Homo sapiens: one gene and its partner. The protein of the gene in region 1 purifies or fractionates together with the protein of each later gene. This does not show direct contact. Each region holds a gene or a part of one and is shown on either strand. Other genes may lie near its edges.

Region 1 (3,821 bases):
CTTCGTGGAGCAGATAGAACTCTGAGGCCCAGAGAGGGAGGGCCTTGTGAGGGTCACTCAGCGGTGGTGGTAAAATCTTGGCTTCCCTCTTCCTCCAGGCTGACCCTGTCCCTTGTCCCTCTCTTTCGCTCCGCCAGGTGGCTGTATGAGGGCCTGAGCAGGGAGAAAGCAGAGGAACTGCTGTTGTTACCTGGGAACCCTGGAGGGGCCTTCCTCATCCGGGAGAGCCAGACCAGGAGAGGTGAGTAAGCTCGGTGCCAGCCCAGGCCCTCCCTACGTGGAGGTCTCAGAAAGGAGCCCACAGATATATGGCTGCAGGTGCGGCCCAGAAAATAGGCTTTGCCTGACTTCTCAGTCAACCAAGATTTCCTGAGCCCCAGCTCCGTGTCCTGCCCATATGAACCATGTGGAGCCCAGGCTGGGGGAGATGGAGACAGGCCATGAAAGCAGAGGAGAGGCAGCTAACTTTGGAGCAATCAAGGGAGGCTTCATGGAGGAATAGACCATGAGTGGACCTGGAGGAGTGGACCTGGGATCCTGAGGGATGTTCCCACAGGATCCCAGGCAACAAGACACAGTGGTGCTGGGGTGGGCCAGTGGGCTGCACCTCGGGACAATAGGAGGTTAGAAGTGAGCAAGCTCCAGCACAGAGGCCTTGGATGCCGAGCTGAGAAGCTTTGGTTTTCTCCCAAGGCAGTGGGGTTGCTACTCAGCAGAGACACAGTGCTGGGCGTGTGTTTTGGGGGAAACGAGAGGATGCATTACAGGGACTCTCTGAGTGTGTTCTGTGGGCCACCTGCTTAGAAGTAGAGGAGATGGGGGGTCAGTTTAGGGGACCCCGAAAATCGTATCCTTCTCTGAGAGGTTCACAATCCGTGTTAACACAAGACTTCTTAAGGCGTCGCGTTTGCCTAACTGGGCATTTCCCAAGTGTTTCTGACACAGGAGTGTTTCATCATGCAGCACCAGTCAGAGTCACTCCATGTTCATTCATTCAGCAAATGCTTCTCCAGCACCTATGATGTGGGGAGGCTTCAGGGAAGGACAGGACCTACTGTATGTGTCAGGCCTTAGGCATCTCTGCTGAGTGAGGTGGCCATGGTCCCTGCTCTCAGGGAGCTCCTGGGTCACTGGAAGCCAGTGTTCCATGGCACAGAGTTTGGGAAACATACCTCTATTTGAGATCCACAGTGATGCCAGGGCTTGCCCCTCCAATGCCAAGAGCCAAGTGTGATATGACTTGAGGGTGGGGCAGAAGGCCAAATGTGAAGGGCTGGAGTTCCTAGCCTTGGTGTCTAGCAGTCTGGCTGTCATCTGCCATGTTGCTGCCATGAGAGCCTATCAGCAATAGAGCAAAAATCTGCATTTCTAAAAATAATACAGGCCGGGCACTGTGGCTCACACCTGTAATCCCAGCACTTTGGGAGGCTGAGGTGGGAGAATCACTTGTGCCCAGAAATTTGAGACCAGCCTAGCCAACATAATGAGACCACTTCTCTACAAAAAAATTTAAAATGTAGTGAGGCATGGTGGTGCATCCCTGTAGTCCGAGCTACTTCGGAGGCTGAAGTGGGAGGATCACTTAAGTCCAGGAGTTCCAGGGTGCAGTGAGCCATGATTGCACCACTGCACTCCAGCCTGGGCAACAGAGCCAGACTCCATTTCAAAAAATAAAAGTGAATGTGAATGGCCCACAGTAGGGATCTAGGCTCAGCCAACACATTGGCAACTAGGATTTTTAATAGAGTATAGTCACAGAATTTCTCTGCGTTGACTAGGAGGTGATTCCTCCTTCCCCAAGACACAACATGATTCTGATCTCTTGGCAAAACATTAAAATGGTGACAGGATCTCTTGGGTCAGTAGCCAGTCAGAGCTAGAAACCCACTGGAAGTCATCTCATGGATCCTCCTCGCTCCACTGTACAGACTGAAAAACTGGACCAAAGAGGAGTAGGAACGGGCCACATGCACATTCATGTGGGGCTTCTCCCACCCCAGGTGCAGGGTCTTTTGCAATCAAAACACAAAGTTGATTGTCTCTTTGATGACCCTGCCTCCCTCTGAGCTGCTGCCCCTGAGTCCTTTAAGGCAGAGGCAAAGAGGGATGTTGAAGGAGCAGCAGCCCCCACGTTTATGTTAAGCCCTTTAAGTGACTTAAAACAATGTATGGGGATTGTACTTCCATTGTCTTCATTTTACAGATGGAAAAACTGAGGCTTAGGGAAGAGAAATAATTTGCCTGGGGAAACACAGCTAGTAAGTGCAGAGCCAGGATTCAAACCCAGCCACACCTCCTCTCACTCCAGGCCCCCAAGAAAGGCCCACGTGGGGCAGTAATGTTGGCACTGCAAGCATAGCAACAGACCAGGGAAGGAGGTATCAGGAATGGACAGACCTCCTGGCGCCCGCCTTGATATGAACCAACTGTGATAGGCTGTCGGGACCCTTCGTTCTCTGCCTCAGTCTCCCTCCCAGGACCCTTTCCAGCTTCTTTGTCTCTCCTCTCCTGCCCTTGGGCGTTCTTGGGTTGACCTCTCTGAGGCCCCTCCTGCTATTTTCTAGGCAGCATCAGCACCCCCACCTCACATACATCCATAGGCTGGTAGAGGGGCTGGGGAGGCCAGCCCAGCACAGCAGCTGCAAACAGGAAACCACAGCAGCGTTGCGGAGTGGAGCAGGGCCCCACTGCAGACTGTCCCCTGGAGCTTCAGAAGCCACAGGAAGTGCTCAGTGCTCAGCTCCCCTCCCCTGGCCCATTCTCTGGCCTGGGTCAGCCCCAAGAATATAGTGGCTGGCCCTTATGGCCACTCTGCCCCTTACCTAAAAAGACACAGATGCAAAGAGAAAACTCTGTGAGTGAGAAGAGAAAGCCGTATGGAGACTTTTTTTTTTTTTTTGAGACAGAGTCTCACTGTGTCGCCCAGGCTGGCGTGAAGTGGCACATTTTGGCTCAGTGCAGCCTCTGCCTCCTGGGTTCAAGTGATTGTCATGCCTCAGCCTCCCTGGTAGCTGGGATTACAGGCGAGTGCTACCACACCGGGATAATTATTATACTTTTTTGAGACAGAGTCTCACTCTGTTGCCTATGCTGGAGTGCAGTGGTGCGATCTCGGTTCACTGCAACCTCCACGTCCTGGGTTCAAGCGAGTCTCCTGCTTCAACCTCCTGAGTAGCTGGGATGACAGGCACATGCCACCATGCCCAACTAATTTTTGTGTTTTTAGTAGAGACAGGGTTTCATCATGTTGGCCAGGCTGATCTCAAACTCCTGACCTCAGATGATCCACCCACCTCGGCCTCCCAAAGTGCTGGGATTACAGGAGTAAGGCACTGCACCGGACTATTTTTTTTTTTTTGTATTTTTAGTAGAAACGGGGTTTTGCCATGTTGGCCAGGCTGGTCTCAAACTCCTGACCCTCAGATAATCCGCCCACCTTGGCCTCCCAAAGTGCTAGGATACAGGCATGAGCCACCGCGCCCAGCGGGATCCATGAAGATCTTTAAAGACTCATAAGATCCACATAAGGCCTCACCTGAGGTCAGGAGTTTGAGACCAGCTTGGCCAACATGGCGAAACCCCATCTGTACTAAAAATACAAAAAAATTAGCCGGGCATGGTGGCAGGTGCCTGTAATCCCAGCTACTCAGGAGGCTAAGGCTAGAGAATTGCTTGAACCTGGAGGTGGAGGTTGCAGTGAGACGAGATCGCACCACTGCACTCCAGCCTGGGTGACAAAGCGAGACTATGTCTCAAAAAAAAAAAAAAAATCCTCATAATTACCGGGACTAAGGTCTCCAGGTCCCCATAGTCAATTCCAA
Region 2 (3,821 bases), on another chromosome or scaffold:
GCACCGCATGAACACTTGCCAGTCAGAATAGATGCAGATGGCTGTGCTGGAACAGGGTCCTGGAATCGCCATATTGTGTAAGGGGGACTTTTGCTGCTGAATCATGGGAAGGTTTTGTGGGAGGTATCTCTAGAAGAGGGGCCTGGGTAGTCAGAGGGTGTCAGAGGGTAACTCAGGGCAGTGCCTATTTACGAATTGGTATGGAAGAAGTTCAATCTTTTAACAGTACTTCAGCTGAACCAGTACATATTGGCTAAATATTAGTCCTAGTAATAGGTCTATTTCAGGTTTTCTATTTCTTCCTTGGCCAGTTTTGCTAAGGTGTATTTTTTTAGTAAACTGGCTATTTCATCAAAGTTTTCAAGTATATAGGGATAAAGCTCATCTATCATCTTCTTCTATATTGTTGTCTCCTTTTTATTGCTGATATTAGTTATTTATGTCTTTTTTCTCTTGATGAATCTTGCCAGAGAATTGCCTATTCAATTAGCTTTTTTCAAAGAGCAGGCTTTTAAAAATCCTCTATTATATTTTCATTTTTGACATCATCAATTTTATGCTTTTACACTTATCATTTCCATACATCTACTTTCATCGGGTTTATCCTTTTACTTTTTTCCAGTTTTTTGAGTAAGATGCTTAGTTCATCAATTTTCAACCTGTCTTCAGTATGATTTCTTCTTTGATCCATAAATTATTTAAAAGTGAGTTTATAAGTCTCTAAACATGAGAATTTTTAATTAATAACTAAATGATACTAAGAACAGGGAAAATGGTTTGTGTGATAATAGTTCTTTGGTACCAGCTGAAACCTACTTTGTAGTTCAGTACATGCTCAATTTTTGTACTGGTTCTAAGTTTGCTTCAGAGGATGTTTTCACTAGTTGTTGGTAGCAGAAATCTAAATATGTGTAATACATCAAGCTTATTAATAATATTTAAATCTTCCACAGCCTTATCCATTTTTGTTTGTTGTTGTTGTTATTTTTCTTTTTTGAGACAGAATCTCACTCTGTCACCCAGGCTGGCCCACTGCCACCTCTGCCTCCCAGGTTCAAGCGATTCTCCTGCCTCAGTAGCTGGGATTACAGGCGTGTGCCACTAGGCCCTGCTAATTTTTGTGTTTTATTTATTTTTGTTGTTGCTGTTGTTATTGTTTTGAGACAGAGTCTGACTCTGTGGCCCAGGCTGGAGTACAGTGGCACAACCTCGGCTCACGGCAACCTCTACCTCCTGGGTTCAAGTGATTCTCCTGCCTCAGCCTCCCAAGTAGCTGGGATTACAGGTGCCAGCCACCACGCCTGGCTAATTTTTGTATTTTTAGTAGAGATGGGGTTTCTGCGTGCTGGCCAGGCTGGTCTCAAACTCCTGACCTCAGGTGATCCACCCACCTCGGCCTTCCGAAGTGCTGGGATTACAGGTGTGAGCCACCACACGTGGCCTAATTTTTGTATTTTTAGTAGAGATGGAGTTTCACCATGTTGGCCAGGCTGGTCTCCTGACCGCAAGTGATCTGCCCACCTCAGCCTCCCAAAGTGCTGGGATTACAGGCGTGAGCCACCATGCCCGGCCCATTTTTGTCTATCTTATCTAGATAAGTAAATGAGAGAATGCTGTTAATATTTTCCACTGAGATGGAGATTTCTCACTTCTTTCTTGTAATTCTGTCCACTTTTACTTTTTATAGTTTTATGCTATGTTTTTAGGCGCATACAAGCTTTTATATTTTAGTGAAATTAATCTTTTGTTATAGTACCTTTTTATCAGTAATGCTTTTTGTCTTAAACTTTATTTTGTTTGCTATTAATGTAGCCACAACTGTTTTGTCTTTGACGTATAATTGTTTGTTTTTTCTCATCCTTTTACTTTCAACTTTTCTAGGTTTGTATGTTTTAACTGTGTCCCTTACAAAGAAAATACAGTTCTGTTTTATTTTTAATCTAATCTAACACTGTCTATTTTTAACTGGACAGTTTAGCCCATATACGTTTATCACAGTTATTAATATTTGGATTAAAGCTTAGGTTATCTGCCTACTAGTTTTATGCTTTGTGAAATAACAAAAAATATTTTTCCTGAAATTAAGGAAATTTATTTTGTAAGCTAGTTTTCATCATGAACTATACAACTTGGTCTCCTTCCTGTATAATTTTCTCCAACTTTTTAGTTGCAGTATATGACTAGTTTTGTGCTTCCTAATTTACCTGTTCTTTTAAATAATTATCTTTTTTCCTTCCCTTCTCTGCTTCTATGGGATTGATCATGTTTTATTAGTTTTTTACCCTCTACTAATTTGGAAGTTACATTTATATTTCTATTCAAATTTTATTTCTAAATTTTAGTAAACAAATTCATTTAGTAGGTATGCTTGTCTTTGTCTAAAGATAACCAATAGTTTTTGCCTTCCACTCAAAGAGTATGGGTAGCTAGAAATCTCCAAGAATAGCCCCTCTCTTTTTACATATGACCTCTAAAAAGAATATTTCGAAAATGATGGCCACACACAGTGGCTCATGCCTGTAATCCTTGTATTTTGGGAGCTAAGGCAGGAGGATCACTTGAGCCCAGGAGTTCAAGACCAGCCTGGGCAGCATAGCGAGACCCCGTCTCTACAAAAAATAAAAAATTAGGTGGGCATGGTGGCTCATGCCTATAGTCCTAGCTGCTCAGGAGTCTGAGGCAGGAGGATCACTTAAGCCTGGGAGATCCAGTCTGCAGTGAGCTGTGACTGTACCACTGCACTACAGCCTGGGTGACAATGCGAGACCCTGTCTCAAAAACAACAACAAAAACAAATATACACAGAAATGATCATGGTGTGTTTACTATATTATCATTTCACCATAGCTAGCAAAGCAGGCATATTTTAATTGTTTTTCAAACTTCAACTCTTTAAATATCAATTTCTTTATAAGGAGACATTTTGTTGGAATGTTGCACAACAGAGGCATAACTGGCATTTTAGGTGGGACAACTAGTCCACTGTGCACACTGACCTGTGTACTGCAGGAGGTTTAGAAACTCTGGTCCTTGCTGACTACATGCTAGTAGATAGTTCTCTTCCCCCATAGTGACAACCAAAATTGCCCCACGCTTTATTCCTAAACATTCCCTTTGAGATCAGTACCATTCCAAATGAGAACTACTCTTTTAATGCATGAAAACAAAGAACAAAAATTGCAAAATAAATATATGTAGAATTGAGGGAAGAAAAAGTGAGAAACAGTTTAGTTTCACAGGAGAAATAACAAAAATATTTTTCCTTAAATTCAGGAAACTCTTTTTTTATAAGCCAGTTTTCATCATTAACTATACTACTTGGTCTCCTTCCTGTATAATTTTCCCCAAAATTTTTAGTTGCAATATATGACTAGGTACAATTAACAAAATATATCATCACTTTTTGGTTGCTTTTCCTAAAGCCAGTTTCCTTCTTGAGGCTAGGACAGAACACTGAATTTGTTCACCATCTTTAAAAAAAATGTTTTTGTTCATAATCCTAACATGGTCTCCTATTCACAAACCTGTTAGTGTCCCAAATAATGACATTTCCATCAAATCCTGATGTTACTAAGAGTCTTGTATTAGTATCATATTCGATGTTCTTCACCCAGCTAGTGTGACCATGTAAAGTGCATACTTTGGTGTTCAATTTTCTCAGATCCCATAGTGCTATTGTAGTGTCATCAGAGCAGGTAGCAAACAGCCGGTTATCAAGAAATCTATAAAAGCAGAAAAACAAAACCCTGGTTCATTTAATCTCTTTTTAAAGGAAAATTGATTTGAGAAACAGTCACTATATTACCTAGTCAAGAAAGAAA

Evidence for each region.
Region 2: the proteins of SLA2 (region 1) and DCAF10 purify together in Homo sapiens (affinity purification with mass spectrometry; one large-scale study listed by BioGRID and IntAct). This does not show direct contact.

What each region holds. Positions count from the first base shown.
Region 1 is NC_000020.11:36,629,015-36,632,835, reverse strand, and holds part of SLA2 (src-like-adapter 2), read left to right. Parts: intron 1-137; coding exon 138-241; intron 242-3,821. UniProt on the Homo sapiens protein: Adapter protein, which negatively regulates T-cell receptor (TCR) signaling. Inhibits T-cell antigen-receptor induced activation of nuclear factor of activated T-cells.
Region 2 is NC_000009.12:37,841,990-37,845,810, reverse strand, and holds part of DCAF10 (DDB1- and CUL4-associated factor 10), read right to left. Parts: intron 3,723-3,821; coding exon 3,525-3,722; intron 1-3,524. UniProt on the Homo sapiens protein: May function as a substrate receptor for CUL4-DDB1 E3 ubiquitin-protein ligase complex.